4 linked regions of the Homo sapiens genome follow. The protein of the gene in region 1 interacts with the protein of each later gene in a pairwise test. Each region holds a gene or a part of one and is shown on either strand. Other genes may lie near its edges. The genes, in order: DEUP1, CEP57, ZNF148 and EXOC5.

The links.
Region 2: the proteins of DEUP1 (region 1) and CEP57 interact in binary tests that used the Homo sapiens proteins (3 or more experiments, as listed by UniProt).
Region 3: the proteins of DEUP1 (region 1) and ZNF148 interact in binary tests that used the Homo sapiens proteins (3 or more experiments, as listed by UniProt).
Region 4: the proteins of DEUP1 (region 1) and EXOC5 interact in binary tests that used the Homo sapiens proteins (3 or more experiments, as listed by UniProt).

What each region holds. Positions count from the first base shown.
Region 1 is NC_000011.10:93,389,723-93,396,754, reverse strand, and holds part of DEUP1 (deuterosome assembly protein 1), read right to left. Parts: intron 2,313-7,032; coding exon of another isoform or gene 2,297-2,312; coding exon 2,099-2,296; intron 517-2,098; coding exon 430-516; intron 7-429; coding exon of another isoform or gene 1-6. UniProt on the Homo sapiens protein: Key structural component of the deuterosome, a structure that promotes de novo centriole amplification in multiciliated cells.
Region 2 is NC_000011.10:95,828,479-95,833,206, reverse strand, and holds the end of CEP57 (centrosomal protein of 57 kDa), read right to left. Parts: intron 4,021-4,728; coding exon 3,876-4,020; intron 2,182-3,875; coding exon 1,951-2,181; 3' UTR 514-1,950; downstream 1-513. UniProt on the Homo sapiens protein: Centrosomal protein which may be required for microtubule attachment to centrosomes. May act by forming ring-like structures around microtubules. Mediates nuclear translocation and mitogenic activity of the internalized growth factor FGF2, but that of FGF1.
Region 3 is NC_000003.12:125,372,305-125,380,224, forward strand, and holds the start of ZNF148 (zinc finger protein 148), read right to left. Parts: upstream 3,022-7,920; 5' UTR 2,798-3,021; intron 2,406-2,797; exon of another isoform or gene 1,923-2,405; intron 1-1,922. UniProt on the Homo sapiens protein: Involved in transcriptional regulation. Represses the transcription of a number of genes including gastrin, stromelysin and enolase. Binds to the G-rich box in the enhancer region of these genes.
Region 4 is NC_000014.9:57,230,899-57,237,930, forward strand, and holds part of EXOC5 (exocyst complex component 5), read right to left. Parts: intron 6,469-7,032; coding exon 6,440-6,468; intron 4,923-6,439; coding exon 4,813-4,922; intron 3,135-4,812; coding exon 3,090-3,134; intron 2,986-3,089; coding exon 2,845-2,985; intron 1,852-2,844; coding exon 1,769-1,851; intron 818-1,768; coding exon 608-817; intron 1-607. UniProt on the Homo sapiens protein: Component of the exocyst complex involved in the docking of exocytic vesicles with fusion sites on the plasma membrane.

The sequences.
Region 1 (7,032 bases):
CATCCACTGGGAAAGTGACAAGCAACAAAACAAGTCAGAACAAAATACGAACTAAATGTGGCATTCATTCTGACTGGGGTTTCAGGGGTGGCTTCGTTGAGGGGAAGATTGGCACTTGAATCAGGCCACATAGGATGTAGGATTTCAAAGGCAACAGCAAGAAGAAAAGCAAGGAAATAGCATGCTTGGCATATTTGAGGGAAATGATCAGAATTGAGCCCAATCCAACCAAAGAACAAGGGAGAAAACCAGACATTCCAATGTTCTAGCCTGAGGATAAAAGTAACCTCAACTGAAGCACAAGATAATTTACCACCCAACTCCTTCATGTCTAACACACAGCAAGTGCTCAATAAATGATGTCTAGGTTAATCGTGACCAATTCAGTAATCTCTTTGTTCAATTTATTGAATGATGTCAGCATATTACCATGTATTCTCCGGGGTCTAAATCTCCCATCATTCCTTTTAGATGTGTGTTTTCAGTTCTGACAGCTTTATATTTCATATCTGAGACCTGAAATTAGCAGATAAAAGGCAAATGTAAAATTCATAATAAAAACTCATAATTCTATTAAAATTTTGTCTTGTGAATACAAATATTTTCTAAGTGTAATGAAGGGAAACACTTCTTCGGTACGACCAATAACATTCAGGTATTCTTATTTAGTTCTCCTGTCTTTGGCAGGCACCACTTTACGTCTTTTTCTGATCAATGCTAAACTACAAGCATATACTTTCAATAATGATTCATTTAGTTTTGTCCTACAATCCCAAAATTCCATTTCTGGTTTCTATTTTCTATTGTATGCAAATTGTCACCAGAAAAAGCACATGTTAAAAGCATGTTTGAGTAACTGTCCATTAAATTTATTCAACACCTGATTAATTTTTACAATAGGCAATACATAACTTTCATGTTTAATTTTGTTCTGATATTTCTGCCAAAATTCCATCTTTTTTAGTGACTACTTCATTTTGTCTCTCAATTTATTTTATCTTTCCCTGATTTATTCTACTTGACAGGACTTGGATATGGTATCTGTCCTTTTACTTCTCTAGGACTCATTTCTGTATAAAACACGTGCCTTAAAAAGATTTAATTTTGTAAATTACCAATTTATGCTCATTGACAAAACCTAGAAAACGTACAAAAATATAAAGGTGAAAATAAAAATTATTCATAATCCAACTAGCCAGATCACTGTTAACACCTGTAAAATATCCCTGCCTATACAGGTACAACCAAAGAGATTATCCCATCTGTGCTGTTTTCCTGTGTACTGCAACAATAAATCACGGTTTAAGGCTTACAACTGGGCAAAGGCTAAATCTTTTCTGTTTTCATAATTCACGATTTTAGTCATGTTATTTGTGAAGTGACCCTCATATGCCTAGAAAATTATTAAATGATGCTCTCAAAACCTTTAGATTTGGGGTAAAAAAGCAGATAAACCCTGTGCTCTCAATAGTAGGCCATCCATTTGATCATGAGTAAGGGATGGAGGGAATTTAAAAAATAAATAGGCAGGAAGGAAAGGAAGGATGTAGAAGTTACTTGTAGTATTTTAACAGAAGAATGTTACAATTGCTGTTTTTCCTCACGTACCATGCTGTGCATTGACTGCATGTTCAGTAAATATGAACTAATTTTCATGTTTCAACATCCATTTGTAAAAAGCCTGAAAGAAATACATGAAGTGTGGGGGAGGGGTAGGAAGTGTTGAAGAAGAGCTGGAATAGAGACTTTTTTTTAAAGATAAAAATGTTAATGGAAGAGAAATACAGAAAAACATACTCAGGAAGAAATATTTGATTAGAGTGTACTGTGGGAGGTGATCAGAATATAGGTTACAAGAAAATGGAAAGATGAGATTTAATGAAATTGTCTTGCACTGTCATTTCCCTAGTCCTTTTTGTTGGTGACACTTTGTGTTATCTCTGAAAGGTTTTATGTAACACCACAAAGCATTTCTGTGAAGCTAGTCTCAGAAATAATACCAAGAAATGTAATGTTTTCATTAGTCAATAATGAAGGCTACTATTGGCACTGAGCAAGAATGTGCCCTAGACAAGTGCTATTCTGCCTGCTTGCATACCTTTTGTTTTGCTAACATTTTTTCTTTTATTTCTAATTCCATTTTTAACTGTTTTTCCAGAAGGGCAGCTTTCTTTGTGACAGTTGCTATAGTGATCTCCTTCTGATGAAGCTCTTCTGTTAGGTCAGAGATTTCATTCCTCATTCTTTCCTGCTCAGAGTTATGGTACTCTTCCACCTGTTGGAGTTGGCTTCTTATCTGCAGCAGATAGAGACTGGAAATATTATTGAATCCTTTTATTTATAGAGTAGCTTAAAATTTTACTGGCCATGTTCAGTCCTTCTATTCTGAAACTTTGTCAGGGCCCACTTCACCCTCCTTTTCTGATCAATGCTAAATTAAAAACAGATACATATAATAATGACTCATTACCTTTTTTCCTTCCAATTCCAACATTTCATTTCTCACTTCTATTTTCTGTTGTATGCAAATCATCACCTATGACTGATACTACTTTGATAACCACTTTGAGAGGAAGGTAAAGAAAGTATTATCAAGCATTTTCATGGAGAAAAAAATTGGCTTTAAAATGGTTACATGATTTGCTCAAAGTCATAAAGCTAATAATCGGCAAAGCTAGGACTGGAATCTAGGACTCTTGGCTTTAAATTCAGTGCTTTTTTAAAACTAAAATAGGCTGTACTGTTTGTAACTAAACATTTGTTTCTCAGAATCACATTACAGTAAACTTCAAACAATGTCTTCATGAAAACTCATCACTTCCCTTACTTAAGCCTCTTATTTTCTGAATCTTGGCTAAGCTTCCATGTTACAAACCTCTGGATTGTCTCTGACTCCTCTCCACCCTTGTCCTCCCAAACCTGGTCAGGCAATGAATTCTGTCCATTCTATTTCAACCTCTTTTAAGTCTTGCCTCTGTCTCCATTCCTACAACTGCTGTCTTTGTCTAGCCTCTTAGCATCTTTCTAGAAACCATTACTGTTTCTAATTCTTGAGACTTAAAGTACATAATCATCCGTCTAAAAAAAAATCATAGTCCATTGGGGAAACAGAAAAATAGACGATTACAACACAGTGTAGCAATTAGTGTCAGCAGTATGTAGTGGCAGTGTGTTTAACCCAGCCTAGGGATGACAGGATAGGATTCCCAGAGGAAGGGTCATCAGACCCAAAACTGAAGGATGAATGAATGCCAATTAGAGATGCTCTAGCCGGGCGTGGTGGCTTGTGTGGGAAGCTGAGGTGGGAAGGATGCCTGGAACCCAGGGGGCAGAGGTTGCAGTATAGTGGGCTGAGATCATGCCACTGCACTCCAGCCTGGGTGACAGAGCAAGACCCTGTCTCAAAACCCTGTCTCAAAAAATAAAAATAAAAAAAATAAAAAGGCATAGAAAAAAATAGAACATATAGATGCTCTATGAAAAGTAAAAACATTAGCCGGGTGTGGTGGCATGTGCATTCAGTCTCAGTTAGTCGGGTGGAAGGGGCACTGGGGTGGGAGGATCCCTTAAGCCTAGGAGGTCTAGGCTGCAGTAGGCCCTGATTGCACCACTGTATTCCAGCCTGAATGACACAGCAGGATCCTGTCTCAAAAAAAAAAAAAAAAAAGAAGGAGGAAGAGAAGAAGAAGGAGGAGGAGGAGGAGAAAGAAGTAGAAGGAGGAGGAGGAGGGCTCAGAGGAGGAGGAGGAGAAAGAAGGAGGAGGAGGAGGGCTCGGAGGAGGAGGAAGAGGAGGAGGAAGAGGAGGGAGGAGGAGGAGGAAGAGGAGGGAGGAGAAGGAGGAGGGATCCCAGGCAAAGAGCTCAGTGAGTGAAAGCATGGCACACTCAGTGAACTAAAAGGAGTTTAGGGTAGCTAGGAGTTAGCTGCTCTGAGAAATAAGGCTGGAGAGTTAAGTAGAGGCTAGCCACAAAAGAAACATGAATTTTCTCCAGGGCACTTTTTTAAAATGGATTTTTTTTTTCATTTCACCTTTAAACATTTCAGTATATATCTTTAAAAGAACAAGGCTCTCTCTTTTTTTTAAATGTAGCCAGAATGTTATTACAATGTCTGTAAAGATTAAGAATTCCTTAATATCATCAAGTATCTAGGCAGTATTCAAATTTAAGCTTGTCTCAAAAATATAATAAATGTTGTTTAAGTTTAATTGAATTAGTATCTAAACATGATCCATTCATTGTGACTGGCTCATATATCTTTTTAAAGCCTCTCTTTTTGTGTGTTCTAAGTAGTTTACATGCATCATCTCATTTAATCCCCACAATGTCTCTCTATTTTGCAGACTACTGTATTTAGCAGATTAGAAAATTAAGGTGCATAACTTTTCACATCACATTTCTTGTGAAAGGCAGTCTAATTCCAGGACCTGTGAACTATTGTGCTCTGCAACCTCTGTGGGAAGGGTCCTGGAAGGTGTGGAAGGTGGTTCACATTTGGAAAAACCTGAGTTTTAGGGGTTGACACCTACAGAGAGATTGGAAAAATCTGGGTTTTAGGGGATGACACCTAGAGTGAGATCAGAAAAAGCTGTGTTTTAGGGGATGGCACTTAGAGTGGGGTGACCTAACATGGAAAGTACACATGTCCAGAGGCAAATGTGATCACCATCAGGCTTTATGCCACCAACCCTTCCTTCATCTGATTCTATTCATATTACCAGCATATTCAGAGTTTCAGAGTTGGATATGACCTTAGAAATCACATGATCGAACCTCATCATTTAACAGATTTTTTTAAAAAAGAGTCACAGGAACGAGAACAAGGCGGAAACTAAGAGACACGAGCACAAGTATCCTAACCCGGAGGACAATATTACAAATCTCCTTTAAATCTCTTCTGTCTCCAAGTTTTTACCTTCCAATTTATTTGATGAAATAACACGGTCAGTCTATAGTTTGTCCCAGTATGGATTTTGCTGATCGCATCCCTTTGGCATAGTTTAACCTGTTCCACTTAAAATGGAACTTTTTTTTTTTTTTTTTTTTTGAGATGGAGTCTTGCTTTGTCACCCAGGCTGGAGTGCAGTGGCACAATCTTGGTTCACTGCAACCTCCACCTCCCGGGTTCAAGTGATTCTCCTGCCTCAGCCTCCCGAGTAGCTGGGACTACAGGTGAGCACCACCATGCCTGGCTAATTTTTGTATTTTTAGTAGAGACAGGGTTTCACCATATTGGCCAGGATGGTCTCAAACTCCTGACCTCGTGATCCGCCCACCTTGGCCTCCCAAAGTGCTGGGATTACAGGCGTGAGCCACGGCACCTGGCCAAAATGGAACTTTTAAAATATAAAAAAATGAATATACTACTGTGAAAAAGGAGTAAACTATTTTTATTATTTTCACAATATTTAGATGTTAACACAACATACTATACTGCAAAACTTCTTTCTTAATGAAAGAAGAAACTAATTTACCTGAACTCCAAATGACTTTTGGTTTATTGAAAATGTGAATGTTATCACAAAATAAATGGCTAAAACAGTTCTAGACTGGAAAAAAGGAAAAGAAATAAAATACTTGCAAGATTCATAATACATAGCTCTTGTTAGTTTTATTACAAAAGAATTAAAATGCTCTTCAGAAACACTTGGAAGCTTTTTTTTTTTTTTTCCTGAGACAGAGTCTTGCTCTGTCGCCCAGGCTGGAGTGCCATGGCGCAATCTCGGCTCACTGCAACCTCCGCCTCCCGAGTTCAAGCAATTCTCCTGCCTCAGCCTCCTGAGTAGCTGGGATTACAGGCGCCTGCCACCGCGCCCAGCTAATTTTTGTATTTTTAGTAGAGACGGGGTTTCACCATGTTGGTCAGGCTGGTCTCAAACTCCTGACCTGGTGATCTGCCTGCCTCAGCCTCCCAAAGTGCTGGAATTACAGGTGTGAGCCACCATGCCCGGCCACTTGGAAGCTATTTATATAAAATTCATTTGTTACCTTTTTTTTGCACAGCATTCTGGTATTTAGTGGCCTCCAAGGGTCTATAAAGAATTCTGTGCCTCATACTCTCTCCCACCATGTCAAAACTGTGCAAAGTCAGTAGATTCTTTATATTACTCAAAGTTTTATTACTTTATCTAAATCTATGAGGTTAAGAATCATGTAACTATACTTTAGGTGGCTTTAACCAATCTTTTATCATTCACTGGGGACACCAGTAAAAAAGAGTTTTTCAAAGTTATATTTTTAAGTCAGCAAAATAAATTTTGTGGGATTATATGGCATTAAAGTGTTCAAAATATATGAAAAATGATCACTGATTCATAACACCTTTTCTCTACTTAACCTCTGTTAGTTCTCTGACAGTCAACTCTTTGGCAGACAGTACCTGTCTTTCATATTATTGTGTTTCCTATAGAAATTAGCAGAATAGCTATAGTTCTCCTAGATACTCAACAAATGTTTGTTAAATTTGTACAAACAACTGAATTTATGACCCTATATATTTATGGGAAAATTTAGCCTTAATATTAACTCATTCTCTAAGTATTTAATTTACTGTGTGTCAAGCACTATGCAGTGCACTAATTGATAATTCAAAGCCACACCCAGGTTTATTTAACTTTTAATTGTTTAGATTTTATAGCATTAAATATTCTGCCTGATCCTCAAACCTAAAGACCAGAGAGGTGGAGAATAGCTATGATAAATTCACAGAAAGAAGGCCATTACTGGATTGTACTAGAGGGAGGAGAGAATCATACTCTTTGTAGGAGAGTAAAGAACCACAAGCTCTTTAAGGACAGTGCCCAGGACTTACTCATCCTTGTATTTCTAGCTCCAGCAGAGTTCCTGGCACATGTTAGGTGCTCAGTGAAAAAATGTGGGTGCAATAAATAACTACTGAGCCAATATTTACTAGATACTTCCTCTGAGCTAGATCCTATTTTAAGCACTTTAAGTGCATTATCTCATAGATTTTACCTTAGGGTAAGAGTATGGATACTGGAGCCAGATTGCCTAGATTGAAACATGGCCTCT
Region 2 (4,728 bases), 2.4 Mb from region 1:
TGTTCACAATTGCCTCATGTAATCTGCAGATTCCTGCCTCCCCACTTTGGTTCAGTCTGTCTTGTGCACCTGGAACAACTGTTCTCCCTTGTGACTAATTCCTATTTTCTAGAGTTTAGGCATCATCTCTTCCTTTGGGAAGTTATCTGATTCACGACTGCCTTCTCTGACATCCCCACCTTCCTCTGTGCCCCCATAGCACTGTGTATACCGCTACTACCACTGCAATTCACATTATATTGGAATGAACAATTCACATGTCTACCACAAGTCTGTAAACATAACCTTATTTGAAATGAATTGCAATAAAGCTCTGTTACAACGTAAGTGGATGGATGACACATTCCTCTACTGTAAACTTGCAGATAAGAAAATGGAAGCAGTATTTTTTCACTTCTCACCTGACAGTACAAAAAGCTGGAGTAGTTCAGTTTGAATCCTAGCTGAGAAAAGGGGTGGGATTTAGCATCATTCAATCACCATTCTCCTAATTAGGACTCAGAGCCACTACAATTCAAATGATGGTTATACAATTTAATGACCTGAAATTCAAACAAGGAGATAACAGGAGTTTTTAATAGCTGAAATGGTGGTTGACACATATATTTATCATGTCACCAGAGCACTGTTTCTCACTTCCCTTGTGTCTATGGGCTCACAATTATTAATTCAATCAAGCTACGAACCTACTCATTAGAAAACTGGACACAGAAGCACAAGTTTACAATTTCAGGAGAGTCACAAATAATACCCCAAAATCTTAAGGATCCTAAATTAAAGCCTGTTACTGTAGTATCTTGTATCATGAGGAAATCTAATATTCTTGGGCTCTCTTTCTATGTAAGCATGAGTGTGGCAACTAAGTACTAGTTTTTTCTCTTCATCAATACATTGATGTCCTCCTATTTAGAAATGCATTTTTTGAGAGCTTGTCACAAAGCCTTTATTAACAGGCTGTTAAGGAAAGTTGCAGTGTTTCCTTTAAAAAGGTGCTTTATTGACTTTAAATTTATAAAAGGTTAACATGTCTTGATCTAGTTGAAATTATGATTTATATCAACATGATAATTATGTGTACAGTTTATATTCCACTCATACTGTACACCAGTAAAAGCAAATATTCAAAGGGTTCTCTAAGTTTCAAGATTAAAAACCATAATGCCTTGACTGAATATCATGATTACAAAACAGGTATTAAGAACTGTGAAGGTATATGCTCACAACATATCCCTTCTCCCATTCTCACTTTATTCCAAAATCTCATTTATTTCACTGACAATTTGTTTATACTTTCAAAAATCCTTTTATAATTTTTATAGATATAACTCAAAATGACTGCTTGGGTCTTTAAAAAATTAACAGATTAAAAAGCAATACAAGTGCACTTAACACTGATCAAAGTCTGAAATGCCAAAAAGCAAAATAAAAATCCTCTGAAATATATATGTATTTTTAAATATAGAAAAACTCCACCAATAGTAGAAACAAAGTATGTTTAATGGTTGCTTTGGAAAGGGGAAGTGGGCACCTCATGCCAGGGAGATTTAAAAATGAGACTTTTCAAGCAAGCACTGCCTATAGCATAGTCTCATATTTTGAAAATTTAAACCTAATTTTAATTATATATAAAGAACTATTTTAAAAAATCACACCCACAAGTAAAAAACTGGTAATCTGTTTACAAAGTGCAGCGTCAGTACAGCAAACTCATCTCAACAAAAGATTATGTGTGGTTTCTCGGGCTTTAAAACTCCCCTGGTTTCCATTTAAATGCTTTAACATTGAGTCATCCTGCATACATGAAAAGCCTGTGTAATGAAGCCTGGGTCCTTTAACACCTGCTATTAATTAATTCCAACATAAGTGAGTATGAGACCTGGGAAGTAAATTGTCATCATCTGATTGATGAGGTACAGATTATCTGAATAAAATTTCTGACCTGGTTATGAGTCAGTAATCCCAACACAAACTACTGCTTTGTAATGAATTCTGTATGCTTTGCATGTCCTTCAATAACTGAAGATTTTTTCTCCTTTTTTCTCCAGGTCTCAGTTTCATAAAATCTTTCTTATTTGTGGTCCCTGTGATTCCAGAACGGCTGCTGCTGTTTCTTTCTTCATCAAGAGTCTTTTTGGTAGCTTTTAATTCCTTCTTCTGCTTCTCTAACTTCTGTTTCTCCAGCTATACCAAATAACCAAGGCAGGAAGGAAAAGGAGAATTTAATGAAAATATTTTTTTTCTGACAACAAAAAGTACAAGAGTACCTTTTTTTGGTTAACTCTCATGCTAACTGAAAAATAATACATTCTAGGCTTTCTTTTAAAGACTTCAAAATCTACTGCACTAGTCATTTAACACTTAAATATTAATATAAATAAATATATGCTTATATATATATAAAACAATACACAAACAAGTAGACATGAGTAAACAAATTCTGGTTGTCCTAAATTAAGGCAATATTGCCAAAGTACAGAACAGGGCGAGTGAGAAACAAGGGGAGTTGAAGGAAAGACTCATGAAGGAGGCAAAAAATCAGACACAGAGAAAAGAAGAATGGGAAGGATTTTCACAAATGGGAGAAGAGGAGAAAGATATTCTAGAAACTAGTCTGAGGAGGCAAAGAAGCAATTTCCAGATGGATGAACAGATGTAATTGGTAATGTATTAATACTATGAAAAGAATTTTATTTTTGTTCCATTATTTTTAGAATAATTTTAAATACGGGAGCTTTATTTTTACTTTAGCCAAACTGATGCTGGCATGTTGGTGTTCCAATAGAATAAGTCTAATTAGTATAAGCAACAAATTAGACCATTACTCCTTACTCCTACAGGAATAATTTGCTTGTATTTCTTTTTCATACATGAACTTTGAAAAAACAGCCAAAGTTTTAGAGTTGAAAAGGCTAGTTTCATCCCAGCTCTGCCATTTCCCAGTAAGCTGGTACTTGGGCAAGTTATTTAATTTCACTGAGGATATATGCATACTTCCCAGAAAATGTGGCTTAGCATCTACCTCATCTATAATATGAGAATATACCCACCTCAGAAGCCTTTTGTGAAAATTAAATGAGAAGATATACTCAGAGCACTTGGCACTGTGTGTCTATCATATGGCTACCAATCAACAGTCAACAAAACTGTTCTGCTCTCTGAACTTCTCAGCTTTCTCCATTTTAGTCAGTGGAATCACCATCCTAACTCCCTCTCCTTCTACATGATACCCAGCAGCAAGTAACCCCAATATTTTTTTTACTTCCAAAACATACCTCAAATCTGTTTACCTCTGCCCAAACCCAACTACTGTCTTGCTGACCACCTCTGATACATCTATAGCTGATCTCTCAGCCTCTCTGCCTTGATCCCATTACCCTACCCCTAGTCACTACAGTAATCTCTTAAATATATGAATCATGTTTCTCTCTGGTTGAAAACCCTTGAGTGTGATGTCACCACTGCATCTGGTAGTACTACATTGTTGGCTGATATAAAATGATTAGCAACATAAATATATTTCACATATTTAATGTATGACTTATTCCTTTGGAAACAGAATTTCGCAGGTGCTTTTAAAAAAACTTACTTGGATAAACTCCAATTTAAATTCATCAAAGAAGTTAAAGCTTATTCATAAAGAATATTAAATATATTCAGTATTTGAAAGATGTTTCTTAGATGAATATGCTAAGTGACTAAAAGTGTCTTCTTTCTTAATCCACTTACCAATTCTCAATGAACAAATGTCTTCAGTAAAGAAGTATCTCCTGTAGATATTTATCTATGATACACTTAGTGTCATCATTTAATATTTGAATTAAAGTGTTTTTTTTTTCTTAATCATTAGAAACTTGAGTGAAGGAAAACTGAGTTACCTGGGCTTGGTATTTTCGAACTTTAGTTATTTGGTTGGCTTTTGCTTCCATCCTTCCCACTAATGCCTCCAATTCACACTCCAACTTGTCTTTCAGTTCAACGGTTGGCGACTCCTGGATAAGTTTTGCAAGCTGCTGGTGATCACTATATACAAAGCAGAAGTAGAACATGGTTAAGTTTTCTGTGTTTCATGGTTAGGTCTATTATACCTCATTATGGGTTACTGCTCCATGTGTTTAAAAAATGACTCCATTTTTTGAACAGAGCAATAAATTTTTTTTTTTTTTTTGAGACGGAGTCTTGCTCTGTCGCCCAGGCTGGAGTGCAGTGACATGATCTCGGCTCACAGCAAGCTCTGCCTCCCGGGTTCACGCCATTCTCCTGCCTCAGCCTCCCGAGTAGCTGGGACTACAGGCGCCTGCCACCATGCCTGGCCAATTTTTTGTATTTTTAGTACAGACAGGTTTTCACCCTGTTAGCCAGGATGTGATATGCCCACTTCAGCCTCCCAAAGTGCTGGGATTACAGGTGTGAGCCACCATGCCTAGCCTAGATCAAGAAATTTTTAATTAAAAATATGAATTTAAAAGTTCAAGAAAGGCACTAGAGGGAAATGCAAGAGTTCTTAATTTCAAGGTTAATTCTTTATATTCTTATTTTCCCCAAAAGAGTATTGTATATGTAAAGTCTACAGATGAATCTTGCTCTTCAAACACTCATGTCTTATCAGTTAAGTTTAGCTAAAATGAATGTGATGTCAGGTGCCAGATGATGATGTAGTAAACAACAGACCACATATACAACAGTGGTCCCGTAAGACTTTAGTATCATATTTTTACTCTACCTAGATGT
Region 3 (7,920 bases), on another chromosome or scaffold:
AATACAATGGGGAAATCAAGAGATACAGCCTAAGATTGTTGGATTCTAAAATCAAGGTTTAAGCATATTATTTAAAAATATAAACACACTGAATAAAATAACTAAAATAAATATCAAAGGTCAGAAAGGAGGAGAAAGGGGATAATGTCAATGACACATTCATAAACATCTTCTGACTCCGATAATGTCATTTTGATAAATCAAGAAATAATATTATATGCCCATTACTTGGAGACATGGAAAAAAGCATGGTAAGAAATACAAAATTAATGCTTAAAAGTAGCAGCCTCAGTAAAGTGGAACTGCAATAGGCAGGTGAGACAGGGGCTGCTGTTTTTCATTGTAAGTTCCCTCAGAACAATTTTATAATAAAAGAGTAGAGGCCGAGCACAGTGGCTCACGCCTGTAATCCCAGCACTTTGGAGGCCAAGGCGGGTGGATCACTTGAGGTCAGGAGTTCGAGACCAGCCTCACCAACACGGAGAAACTCCATCTCTACTAAAAATACAAAATTAGCCAGGGGTGGCGGCAGGCACCTTTAGTCCCAGCTACTTGGGAGGTTGAGGCAGGAGAATTGCTTGAACCCGGGAGGTGGAGGTTGCAGTGGGCCGAGATCACGCCATTGCACTCCAGTCTGGGCAACAAGAGTGAAACTCCGTCTCAAAAAAATAAATAAATAAAAATTTTTTTAAAAAGGGTAGAAAGACAATAATGACATATTTAAGTGCATTCTGCTTACAAAAATTAAAAGAACAGATAATATACAGTGCTGGTGAGGGAAAAGGGAAGGAAGACTAGCCTTCTCATGCCATGATGACAATAAAATTGAGTACAGCATACTATGTTTAAAAAAGACCTGGCCAGGCATGGTGGTTCACACCTGTAATCCCAGCACTTTGAGAGGCCAAGGCGGGCGGATCACTTGAGGCCAGGAGTTCGACACCAGCCTGGCATGGTGGGGTTTCACATAGTGATGGGGTTTCACCATGTTGGCGAGGCTGATCTTAAACTCCTGACCTCAGGTGATCCGCTCGCCTCGGCCTCCCAAAGTGCTGGGATTACAGGTGTGAGCCACCGCGCCCAGCTGTATATAGTTTTTTCTTAATAAAAGGTGAATAATATCCGGGTAGTTTTTAAGAGTATGGTTCTAGCCCAGAGTTCCCTCTTGGAAATCTGGTCTGGTGTGAGCTCAGCAAATCCAGAGAGAGCTTGGTTCATTTCCTGACATAGAGATGCTAATCCTCCCTCCAACCTGGCTCTAGAGTCGTCCAGTCTCCTAGGTTCCCCTAGACCTTCTGATAACTAGTCCTGACCTCCTTGCAACCTAAAACCAAAACAGATATTCTAGCTCCTCCATTCTGCAGGCCCACACTTTGCTGGCTGATACGTTTTCTTCAATGCCATCATGCCTGAATGAGAGTATTCTCTCACTGGAGAACTCCCTCACAGTTCACTTCAGGAACTGTGAATGGCAGAAGATCTCCCACCAGCCACAGATTTATGGAACCAATCCAGCCAACTAATTTGAGCTACAAATGAAGTATCTAAAGAAGAGCCAGCAAGCATGTCTTCCCCCCGACCATTAATTATAATCTTGTGTACTGCAATCCAGGCTGAATAATACGGCACCAATTCTCCTGGACCAGATAAACTGGGCAGTGAAGAAAACCACCAAGTCAATTAATTTCCATTCCAGCGTTTGCCAGGATAGTATTTACCCAACCTCGGGTAAGTGTTAATACTTCAAATTTTCTAAAATCGAAGCTCCATAGCCTAAGGAATCCCCACAGGCCAGACCCTTTCTCAAGGTCTGCTTCAGAGGTTCTCATACTCATTGGTGCACGTCTAAAATGTCACAGACCAAACTACAGACTAAAATCTAATTCTCAGTGACCCCAACCACGGCCCAGACCCACACTTACCAGATGTCATCTACTGAACAGCCCACACAGGTTCGGAACTAGGCCATCCCGGCCCATCTGGAATAACTCTTCAGTACTTAGGCCAATATTTATTAATTATACTACATCTGTCTATTCTATTATGCATTCCCTGCATCTTCTCTACTATTTAGCACTCCCTCTTGCTTCAAACGCGATCCTTTCTATTCACGGGAACTCCTATCTCCCTTCTTTCCTTCCCTGAGAAACGCTTCAGTTCTTTCCATAATGAAATACCTAACGTATCTGCACAATGAACACCCCCCAGAATCCTCAAGACTCCTCCACAGCCACCTCCCCGCATTCCTCCACCTCTCCGGCATCTTTCCTCCGGCCCCTCGCCCTGTTCGCACTCCCACTACGTTTCCTGCAAGCATTCCCTTTTCTCCAACCCCTGCCCTTCCCTTCTCCCAAAGAGCACACTCCGGCAGCAACAGTGACTGAGGCCTGCGGTGCATAAAGCACTGCACCAGGCACGGTGGACAGAGCCCTGGTGTCTCCCTAGCCTTTTCACACCCACACCCAGCACCCTCCGGCCTCCCCGTGCAAACATCCCACCTCCTCCCCTACCTCTGACACCCGCCTCCAGCCTCGGAGGCCGCCTTCTCGCCTCCGCCACCCCCGTCATTATCCCTCCTCAACCCCCCAACCCACCCTCCGCGCCCTGCTTCCTCACGTCCCCCAGCCAGCCCCAGCGTTTCCCTCGGCCTCGGCTGGCCCCCTGGCCACCCCCAGCCTCGCCACGGCTCGCTCCCCCCGGGGTCAGGCCGTTACCGCCGCGCGCTCCCCCCGCGCGCCGCCCCCTCCCCCTCCCCCGCCCTCCCCCGGGCCCGGGCCTGCCAGGCCGAGCGCTTTACCGCGGGCGGGCGCCGAGTCGCGCGGTCACCGACTGCAGGCGGCGGCAGCTCCAACCTTTCTAGGGGCCTTGAGAGGAGGGGAAGGGGGGAGGGGGGAGAACTTTTGCTGTGGCAGCTTCGGCAACAGCTCCCACCCCTGCGCCTTTCTCCTCTTCCTCCCCCTCCTCCTCCTCCTCCTCTTCCTCCTTCTCTTCCTCCTCCCAGAGCAGTAGAGACGCAGACATGCCGCAGCTAGAGCGCCGCCGCGGTCGCCGCCACTGCCGGCCCGGTGCATTGTGGGAAGCCCCGCACACGGGAAGCGCTCCGCGGCGCCCGCCCTCGTCTGGCGCAGAGACCTGGCTGGAAAGACACAGCGTGGCTTCGATTCCGGCGCCTGCGTGTCACCAGCCCAGGGTGGCCGTGGAAGCTGGACCCGAGCCGCAGGCCCCCCAGGCTGGGCCTGGGAGGAAAGCGGTTTGAAAAAGATCGGAACTGAGGAACTCTCTTAGAGCGGGGGACTCCCTGCTCCTACAGCCTTAACCAATGCCCAGCGCTTGGAAAGTGGAGGACTCGGGGATTCGGGAGCGTTTCAGGCCTGGGGAAATGGAAGGGTCGGGGACCTAGGTGAAAGGTTATTTGCCAGAAATGTCTTGGCTTTTTCATTTATTCTGTCTTACCTAGCCCTTCGCCGCCACCTCCAGTCGTTGGCCTCTTACCACCTTCAAATGCCACCTTTTCCGGAAGATGTAGCCCTGCGCCCTTGAAACTGGCAAACCCTATTAGTGTCTGCAAGCTGAGATGCAGGGTGTGGGCATAGACACAGATCAAGAGATCCGGCCCTGGACCCTCTTGGGCAGAACCTTGCCCTTCTCATTTCACCTGAAGCCCAAACTTTGTATGGCAAAGACTTGGTAATGATCTCTATAGAGCTAGGATTACACAGTTGTCTCATCCTTTGGGGGCCCTTTAGCCAAACTGTGACCTCCTTAATGGTGCCTTCGTCAGCTAACATTAGGCGCCCTGAGGTGCTTCTGCATACTGCCATCGTTTACAATTACTCATCTTTGTGTACACACCCTAGCACAAGGTCAGCCATATAACATAAAAGATGCTCAGTGAATGTTGAGTAATTGTGAGCATCTGGAACTTGCCGTGGGATAAAACGCGTTCATTGGGATTTCTTCATAATAATATGAAGATTCCATTTAGCGCCTCTCTGCAATACTTAAACGTAACCTTTGAGGGGAGAGGGAAAAGAAAAGGCATGAAAATATCTATAGAGCCATTTCTGGTGTTCTCCTTCCCTTTTCCACACCCGCCTTCCCACCCCTTGCCAACTAAATGTTCATTTGAATAGTGCTTTTTGGCAAAATTCCAAACTCCTGCATTATGCACTTGTGATGACACTGAATTAGATTAGTGTCTGCAAGGTTAATGTTCCCTCAGGCATTAACCTTAGTAAATCGTGATGCCTGTTTAGAAATAGCTAAGGCCCAGAGGTTCAGCTTAATTTAGACACAGGTAACTAAGAGCAAGAGTAAACCACAGCTCCACAATCAACTCTCTCTGTGTGCTTTCTCCATTAAAAAATATAAATTTTAATAAGATGACCGCACATATTCTGAATGTTAATTGCAACAAAACAATGACACAAGTTAGAGCCAAGGGACAGTTATCTGGAGGACAGCCTTCTGGCAACTTCTAGCACCCGCAGTGGCATCAAATTCAGACGTCATAATGAAAAACACCTCTGGCAGCAAGAAAGCCGACTCTCAGTATTAGGCAGTGGGAAAACTAATAACTGAAAAGGGCTCAAGGCCTGGAGGTTACATCCAATGGGCTAGGATTGATTGGTTTGCTATTAGGAATAGATCTAGTTCTCTGCTCAGCAGCCTAACAAGCGATAGAGAAACAGCTGTCTAAAATGGGCAGAACGAAGAGCACTACAGGGATAGTAACAGCAAAAGCGATGGTGAGGAGCAAGCTTAGGTCCTTTATAAGTTAAACTGGAAAAACTTCTCAGCTTCAGGTTGGCTCTCCATGCTCCTCTTGCTCACTTCCCTAAACACCACCCGTAGGTACTCAGCCTACTTACTTTTCCTTTTTTTTTTTTTTAACTTTTTATTTTGAAATAATTATAGACTCACAAGAAGTTGCAAAAATAGTCCAGAGTCCCATGCTTTCCCCAATGGTGACATCTTACAAAGCTCTAGTAAGACATCAAAATCAGTGTCAACCTAAATAACAGAGAGGCTTTCTAAAAGAAAATAATGTTTATTTGGGAATAGAGCATTGCAATGAAAATATACACATCACAGTTAACCGCATATTCAGGGATGTAAAGGAAGACAAAGGTGTTTAAAGGAAAAAATGGAAAGGATTACATAATTGTTTTGAAATAATTATCCTTGACTACAAAGATCAATAACAAGGGTGACGCCAGTCCGAGGTTGGACAGGCATTTGCTGGGGAGATGTCCTTGCAGAAGTATTTTTTTATGTAAGGTTGTGATGGCCTTTGTGCAAGGTTGTGGGTTTTGCAGTCTTTTTTTGATAGTTTTTGTTATCAGGTATACAAATGTAAGAACCCTCTCTTCGTAGGCAGCCTTCCCTAGCTCTGTTTGTCAGGGTTTCTTAACATTAGTAACTCCATTTTGATTGTGACAACTTTCACACCAGGAAATCGACAACAGTACATTACTGTTTACTATAGACTTCAGAACTTATTACTTGCCATTTTCTTAACCTGTGTTCTGTTTTGTGTGTGTGTGTGTGTGTGTGTGTGTGTGTGTGTGGTTCAATGCAACTTTACCTCACTTACAGATCCTTGTAACCACTCCTATAATGAAGACATAGAACTGTTCCATCACCACAAAAGAACTCCCTCATACTACCTTTTGGTATTCACAAATCCCCTTCCGCACTGCAACCGCTCACCCAACTCCATGCCTGTCCTCTAGTAACCACTAAACTATTCTCCATCTCTATACTTTCATCATTTCAAAAATGTTATCTAAGTGGAATCATACAGCATGTAAACTTTTGAGATTGATGTTTTAACCTAAACATAAAGGTCCACAGCTCAAGCAAATCTAAAGGGCACAGACACTTCCAGCTGATGGTTTCCAAGGGGGAATGTAATATTTAGGAAATCAAGAGAAGTCAGGAATCTGAGTTTTGGGGTGAAACCTCACAAATATTAAATGTTGACAACTCATTCTGTTTTTTTTTAAGAACACAAAAGCATGTCAGACAAAACATGCCTGTGGGCCAGATTAAGTCCATAGCCCCCGGTATATCTTCTCTGATGTGACCTAACCCATAGAGGCTGGCACCGCTGTTCTGACAGGTGAGATTCTCAGGGACTCCCAAGGCCTCTTTCCTCTCTTCTGGCTCTGGAATTAGTTCTGAGGCTTGGTCTTTGCACTCCTTCCAGGAGAAGAATGTACTTCCATCTCTTTCCTGCTTCACCAGGTCTTCAGACCCTCCTCTAGTAATCTCTTTCCTTCCTTTTTTCTAGTATTCTCAGACTCAAGACTAGATGGAAGTTCTGTCTTCTCTATCCTTATGGCTCCCTGCAGCACTAGCCATTCGTCAAAGCTGGTTCTACCTTAAGGATAAACTTGTCCTTTTCTTTGCAAAACTCTAAATTCATAGCTTTGCTACAGATTAATCCACAAGAACCTGCCTCTACTGCGTCACTCCTACTGTACCCAGAAAAATATGGCTTTTCCTGTTCCTAAAGGAGTTCTTTTCCTGGGACATCCTGGGACCCCCTGAATTCCTGCTTCAGATATGCTTCAGGCCTGGGGAAATGGAAGGGTTGGGGACCTAGGTGAAAGGTTATTTGCCAGAAATTTCTTAGCTTTTTTGTTTATTCTCTCTTACCTAGCCCTCCGCTGGAGGGCAAAGGGCATCCCAGATAGCTGATATATTCTAAAACTAATGAATAGTCTACTGTCTCCTGCTGAGGATATAGAGTGGAGGTAATTTCTTGAGTTTGAGACAAAAAACCCTGCACCTCTTAGAAACATCTAAAGAAGGTACTAGGTTGCACTAAAGTTCATCAGTTGTGAGATAACTATGGTTTAGAGGGGCACAAGGGAAGACACCACTGAAAGGCCAAGATACATAAGAATGAATGAAAATGAGGTCTTGGGCCAGGATGATATTTGTGGGTAAGGAAAAAATAAATAATATGAGGATAATATCTACTAGTGCCTAGAGGTTAGTCTGGTGATTAAGTCCACAGATTCTGCAGCTGAAGCCAGGGTTTGAATCCTGACTCTACCACTTACTGGCTTTGCAATCTTAAGTTACTTAACCTCTCTGTGCTGTCAAGTGCCCCATCTAGCAAATGGAGCTAAGAATAGTACCTTCTTTTTAGGGATATTATGGCTATTAAATATTAACATAGAGTAGTTTAGTGTTTGTTTATTTATTTATTTATTTTAGAGACAAGGTCTCTGTTGCCCAGGCTGGAAGGCAGTGGTACAATCATAGTTCACTGCAGCCTCAAACTCCCAGGCTCAAGTGATCCTCCCACCTCAGCCTCCTGAGTACCTGGGACTACAAGTGTGCACCACCATGCCTGGCTGATTTTTGTATTTTTGTAGCAATAGGATCTGGCAGTATTGCCCAGGCTGATCTCAAAGTCCTGGCCTCAAAGCGAGCCTCCCAGCTCGGCCTCCCTAAATACTGGGATTACAGGCATGAACCACCACACCTGGCAATGTAAAGCAGTTAGAACAATAACTGACACATAGTTAAATGTTCTATGTGGTGTTGATATTGTAGTTGCTATTATTACTATTTAAAATAACCTAAAGGTAACACTGAACCAAATTTCCTAAAAATAAAATTCAATAGAGAAAAGACATCAGTTTCTACAAGTGGATTGGGGTGAGGAAAAGAAGAGAAACTATACAAGGACAAAAAAAAAAAAAAAAGAACATGTTGAGAGAGGTGATTTAGGTGGGAAAATACCTTTCAGAATGTTTTCCATGGGGAATAAAAAGGGTATGCAATAGGTAGATGGCACTAGGAAAAAAAATTAACCTGCAAAAAAAAACTGCCATTTTTCAGATATTTTATTTCTGAGCATAATCTTTGCCTCAACAATTTTATAAGGCTGATGACATTGGT
Region 4 (7,032 bases), on another chromosome or scaffold:
TATTCTATCGAGAAAAAAAAAAATGAAAGAAACTATGGAACTTTTTATATTACTAGTGTTCTGCTCGATAGTTTTAAAACATTATTTTTTAATTGACAAATATCTACTTTACTTTTTTTTTTTTTTTTGACACGGAGTCTTGCTGTGTCGCCCAGGCTGGAGTGCAGTGGCGTAATCTTGGCTCACTGCAACCTCCGTCTCCCAGGTTCAAGTGATTCTCCTGCTTCAGCCTCCTTAATGGCTGGGATTACAGGTGTCTGCCACCACGCCCAGCTAATTTTTGTGTTTTTAGTAGAGATGGGGTTTCACCACGTTGGCCAGGCTGGTCTCGAACTCCAGACCTCAGGTGATCAGCCCATCTCGGCCTCCCAAAGTGCTGCGATTACAGGAGTGAGTTACCACGCCCGGCTTACATTTCAATCATGTTATGTTAGGTCATTTCAACATGTGGTTTAAGAACAAGATTTGATCAATAATATAACAATCTGGATTAAAAGAACTCTTCACAGAAAATTCTAATGATAGTCAACATTTGATAATTTGCCCAAATATAATGAAGTTATTAATGTCTTCAGTTTTAACAGAAGTATTTAACAAAAATACTCACCCTCCTGTGCCAATGGATCTCTTTTGATGGTTTTTCGAATCATAATAGCGCTGTAGGATCATAGCACTTCTGCTTTTCAAATATCCAGTCTCCACCTCAATATAGTTCTCCAAATAGGAAATGAAAATGGATTTGATAAGCTTAGACAAGAAAGTCTGTTTATCAGTACCTAAATTAAACTCCATCAGCTTGCTGGAAAGATTGGTGGTTCTTTTCATGAAAAAGGGGGAGAAAAAGATTAATATACATTTTAGGTATAGTAACAATATTAAGGAATACAAATTTTTACAACGTGACTTTCATGACTTATGTTAAGCCACCATTTCTTAAACTCTGGGAGAGTACTTATGATGCAGAGATCAACTCTACAGGGTTACATATAAATACAGTGAAATATTACGAACAACTTTACGGTTTTGAGAACTGTTATAAATTCCTAGGAAAAGAACTTGTGAGGCAATTAACTAGTCCAGAAATGGCGACAGTGGCAGATTGGCCTCAAGTATGTCTAATGCCATTCATCACATGGGACCCAAAACAGAGTACTGAAAGATCTACTGTCTGTTCACCCTCTTTTGTTTTGTCCTTGTGGACTTTCCCTCTAATTTTCTATTTCCCATTGCTGAAGATAGGGTCATAACAGTGTTGTTGTTGAGATGGACTTCCTCATTACGGTAACTTTGGAAAAACCTTCTCCCAAAATGAAGACACTGAAGAAGAGTAATAGGGTTGGGAAAAGTCAAGGAAAAAAAAAACCCCACAAGACTCCATATGAAGCTTCTGAGACAATCTCTAAGAGTAACACTGACATTTACAAAAGCACAAGACAAATTCCTACAGAAGATTTAGAGCTGAAATTGTCATTTGTTAAGATTACATCACTTCCTTTTGCAGTTTCTAAAGTTTTGACTGCAGATAAATGTAATTACACTAATGCTTAGAGAAAAAATAAAGCATAACATCCAATTCCTGACGTTAATGTATTAAGAATGTTGTACAATACAGTCTTGTACAATATAACTAGTCTATACAGCTAAGCATTTAATGCTAAAAGGTAAACTGGTGACAAACTTATTCAAAAATACCTGAATACTTCCTTGTTTTTATCAAAAAAATTTAAAAAATCTGTTATCTATTATTTTCTAATCATTAAAAATTTACCTTGTATACAGATCATAGAGATTTTTGAGATATTGCTCTGCATCGGACTTCCTACATTCTTCTAACTGCTCTTTCACAAAACTCTAAAAGAAAAAGGTTAACATTCTGTTAATTAGGTAAATATTAAATTCTACAACTTCTCAAGATATTTTTCTTTTAAAATTCACTCCACAGTTTTGAACCTTTCTGACTTACAATCCAATCAAAAAGGCAATTACAGAAAACAAACCAATCATAAAATATTTTAAAACAGGTTTTTACATTTTACCACTTCTCATATTTACCTGTAGAGGATCTTTATCAGTCTTAGGAATAATACCTTTTCTGTTAAATTGGCCTATTCTGCTCTGTGAGGTGCATCAAAAAAACAAAACTGAGAGTACAAACAATAGAGTCAATTCCTTAAGGCAGCATCTCCCAAACTGAGTTCCAGGTAACACTAGTGTTCCTTCAGATGTCTATAGGCATTACTCCAAAACAGGGTTTCTTAGACAGTAAATGTGTGAAATGCTGTACATTACATCCCCACTTCTAGAGAATGACAATACTATCAAAATTCCTGAATTGTGTTAAAAAAAAAAAAAAGCAAACATTTATTGAATGTTGTTTAATCCAGTTGTAAACAGCTTAGGAAATGTTATCTGAAAGTACAGTGATATGGGGGTAAATTAAATTTCTGTGTTTTCCCTTTTCAGGTTAGTACCATATTATTAAAAATTCTACAGACTGCTCTTGTAATTCTTGTTCAGTTTCACAAATGACATCTATTGGTGAAGGCAGGGACCAAAAAAAAAGAAAAATCTTCAAGGCTATCTTACCACAATATATTATACTACTACTACGAATACTACACAAATTTCAAGCATGTTCTCTGATGATACTTATTGATTAGCACTTTCTTCTTGGTGAATACAAAACATTTTTTAAAAAGCATGAGGATTCCTTTCTCCTTAACTAGATTACTATTTCTAAGGTCATTACATAAGTAAACTAAATTTTAAAAATACTTTTAAAATATAGGGAAAAAATTACATATTGCTTTAAGAACTATTTAATTTGTTACTATTTAAAATTACCTGTAGTTTGATTTCAAATACATTTTGAATAAGTTTAGCCAGGACTGTTTCTGGATTACTGAAGATATCTCCAACTTGTTTGTTCACTCTTTGACAGAGTATTCCAGCGTCTTCAAATATATCATTTCTCAAATAAGCACCCTAAACAGCAGAGACATTTTATACAGTGAACATATAATTTCTACATGATTTTAAAACAACAATTAGCATAAAATAATATCCAACAAAGTGTACTGTTATGTTACCTCCTGGCACTGCTTTATATAAACATCAACACAATGGGAATAACCCTACAAGGAAGAAACACATTGTTATTATTCTGATTCAATTATAATAATTATTATTTCAAAAAAAGAAGTGTTATATGTCATAAAGCTATGACTATTTACCAGTAAATGGCCAATAGCAACACCTGTTGGACTTAAATAAAATTAACTGCAGAAAACCAGTAACTTGATAAAGGTATCGTCTCCCTAGTCACTTTCTATGATAAAATTTATCAGTTGGTACATATCCTTGTTGAACTTTAGACTAAAACAAGAAAGATGAAGTATGTAACTGAGTTCTTTAGAGTAATTTTTGTCCTATGATCATCTAGCCATCTCCTTCAACTCCAAAACACACCCACTCACACCCACCCACACACATACACACAAACACACACATACACAGAGAGTCAAGGTCTTGGGAAAAGGTTTTACATATATATATGTATGTGTTTTATATACATATAAATATATTTATATATATTAAAGTGTGTATATATACGTGTGTGTGTGTGTGTGTGTGTGTGTGTATATATATATATATGTGTATATATATATTTCTTTTTTTTTTTTTGAGACAGGATTTCACTCCTGTCACCCAGGCTGGAATGCAATGGTGTCATCTTGGCTAACTACAACCTCTGCCTCCCAGGCTCATGCGATCCTCCTGCTGTAGCCTCCCGAGTAGCTGGGACTACAGGCACATGCCTCCCCTCCGGCTAATTTTTGTATTTTCTGTAGAGACAGGGTCTCACCATGTTGCCTAAGCTGATCTCGAACTCCTGAGCTAAACTGATCCACCCGCCTCGGCCTCCCAAAATACTAGGATTACAGGAGTGAGCCATTGCGCCTGGCCTTCTCTAGCATTTGGTTTTCCTTGCAAGAATCTGGACAGTTGTATTCAGCTGGTAGTTTGGAAATTTACTTTTTAAACTAAATGTATTTTAATAAAATGTGTTTAAAACAAACTGATTTGTCATTAAGCTCACCATAATGAGATTTTTGCCTATTAATAAATCATACATAAAAACCAGTAAGGAAAGCAATATAAAGTGCACTACTGTCTCAAGAGCCATTCTCAATACTCATTCAGATTTTACCAAAATGAAAAGTCCAACAAATAGCTTCCCCTTCCCTAATCTGATACAAATCAAAGAAACAGATTGAAGGAAGAACCATTTCTTTAAGCACTTTCTTTGCAGAAATATACTCCTACACAGGGATTCTCTCCCGAGTTCAAATTCTAGGTAAACAATTCCGTAATACAAAATTCTTTTGTATTACCTCCTGAGGTCCCCTGGATTTAAGTCTCTTACTAGTCATGTTCCATCTACTCTCTGGTTCCTATATCCTACAGATATTTACGGTCACGTTTTCTTTCTTTTCACCTATATTATAATATGTGGAAGCAAAAAGGCAGACAATATGATTTTCTTTATCAAAGTATAAAAATTCATCAATATTTAATTGATCAATTAATTTTAATTCAATATTAATATTATTGAATATAAAACCTTAAATATTAAATATATAACATTCAATACCATTTACAGAGTATCAAATGTACAAATTACTCAAAACAGTGAAAATTATCACTGTGATAGTTACATAATGAATGGGGGAAATCAGAGACTATAATATATAGAACTTACGTAATTTCCATAGCCTTGAACACTATTCATTTTTAATTCCTACTATTTACCTTAAAATGAAGTAAAACTGCTGCTACTTCTCTCATTCTGGAGATTTCACCTCTTCTTTGAGCACTGGTAAACTCCTGAATCAGCTGGCATTCTAAATCATGGTATTTACCTAAAAATAAAGTCATTCAGCTACACTGAGGCATACAAGGCATCCACGTTATTTAAGAGTATCTACATTATTTACAAATATAATGACTATGAATATAGCTTTCTTTTGAAGGAATTACAAAAACAAATGAGATTATAGGCCGTGAACCCAGCCCCTGTAATATACTGTGGCATATAAATCTATATTTTCAAGACAAAAAACTTCCAAACTGGCAAAATTACTGAGCTTTCCAGGGTCTGACTGTCATATGCCATTGTTACTTAAACCAGTAGCTGACTGGAAAAAATCCTCCAGATGCTATTTCTGATAGCAACACACATGAAAAATCCTACACATGGAAAGGGTGAAGAGGACTACAGAACTCTTTACTAGAGTTCTGATGCCTCTACCTAGAACAATAGTGGACTGATGACTGAACACCAAATCTCATCCTGATAATATGCAGTATTTATATTTTTTTCATTTTCTTTTTTTTTTTTTTTTCGAGACAGAGTTTCTCTGTGTCACCCAGTCAAAGTGCAGTGGCGCGATCTCGGCTCACTGCAACCTCCACCTGCTGGGTTCAAGCGATTCTCCTGCCTCAGCCTCCTGAGTAGCTAGGATTATAGACACCCATTACCACACCCAGCTAATTTTTGTATTTTTAATAGAGACGGGGTTTCACTATGTTGGCCAAGCTGGTCTCGAACTCCTGACCTCAGGTGATCCACCCGCCTCGGCCTCCCAAAGTGCTGGGATTACAGGTGCGAACCACCATGTCCGGCCCTATTCACTATATTCTTGAGGCTAGTATGGTTCTTAACGAACACCTGAACTTCAGACCAATCTATTGTGATCAAAAATATTCCCAGGAAGTCTAACTAGCTGTGTCATCCTTATTCTAAGACTTTTTGGGAATATAGATGAATCTTTGAATCTTCTATGCAGTGGCCTACTCTAAATAGTGACCCCAGCTACCACAGAACCTGCAAATTTAGTGGTCTTTTCAAAAACCTAGAATGATCTAACCTAAACTAAAATCCAAGACTGGCAAGAACCAAACTAATCATGTAAGGAGTTAAATAGATACTGAAATGCTTATATAATCTTAAAAAAAAAAAGAGAGAATCTTATTCAGAGATAGATGTATGGAAAGCACAGGATTTCCAAAATGCACTATTAAATTAAAAATGCAAGGTATAAAGCTATTTATATAGTATGGTAGCAATTATTTAAAAATAAATGAGGATAGAAGTACATATAAATATCTATACATACACATACATATGTACACACACACATATATAGAATTTATGTCTTATGCTTGTATATCCATAGATTATTCTGCAAGAATATCCAAAAAAACTGGTAATGGTTGTTTTGAGGGAAGAGAAATCAAACTCAGGGATCTTCTATGCAGTAGCCTACTAGGGTAGGAAGATGACATTGTTCCTGCTTTTTCTCCTTTTGCTGTTTTATTTTTACACAAGTAGTTTTTTTACTTATTAAAAAAAAGGTAAAATAAATACATCACTTACTTGCAATTTTGGATTTAACTTCTGAAAATCTGAAAGACAAAAACCAACCATGAGGTTTGTTAGTTGTGATAAACATCCTATGGCAATGTAAGATGCTAACCAAATGGGAAACTGGGTGCAGGAGATACGAGAACCATCTGTACTATCTTTGCAACTTTTCTGTAAATCCAAAACCATTATAAAGTTAAAAGGTTATTGTAAAAAGAAAAAAGACAAAATCAGAGGAGAGAATTCTGATAGGAAGCATGCCAGGTGATAAAACTTAATGTAGGTAGGTAGCTGGTTCTCATTTAGGAAATTCACATTGAAAATCAATTCTCTTTTTAAAGAATCAACTGCTCTGCATAAGACACTAACAACCCAGCCAGTCCCAAAACTGACTTACTGTTCTTACTTTTATTTGCTGGCATTTTAAATACACTTGATTATTTGTCTCCCTCCCCATTCCCATGGTTGGTATTTTTAAAAATAAAGTTCCATCATTATTATTCAAAAGAAAAAGATGATCAAATAATATATTATATGATGATATATTAATGACAAATGATAAGACCCAGCAATGTGCCTAGCAGAGTAGCCATTCAATCTTTACA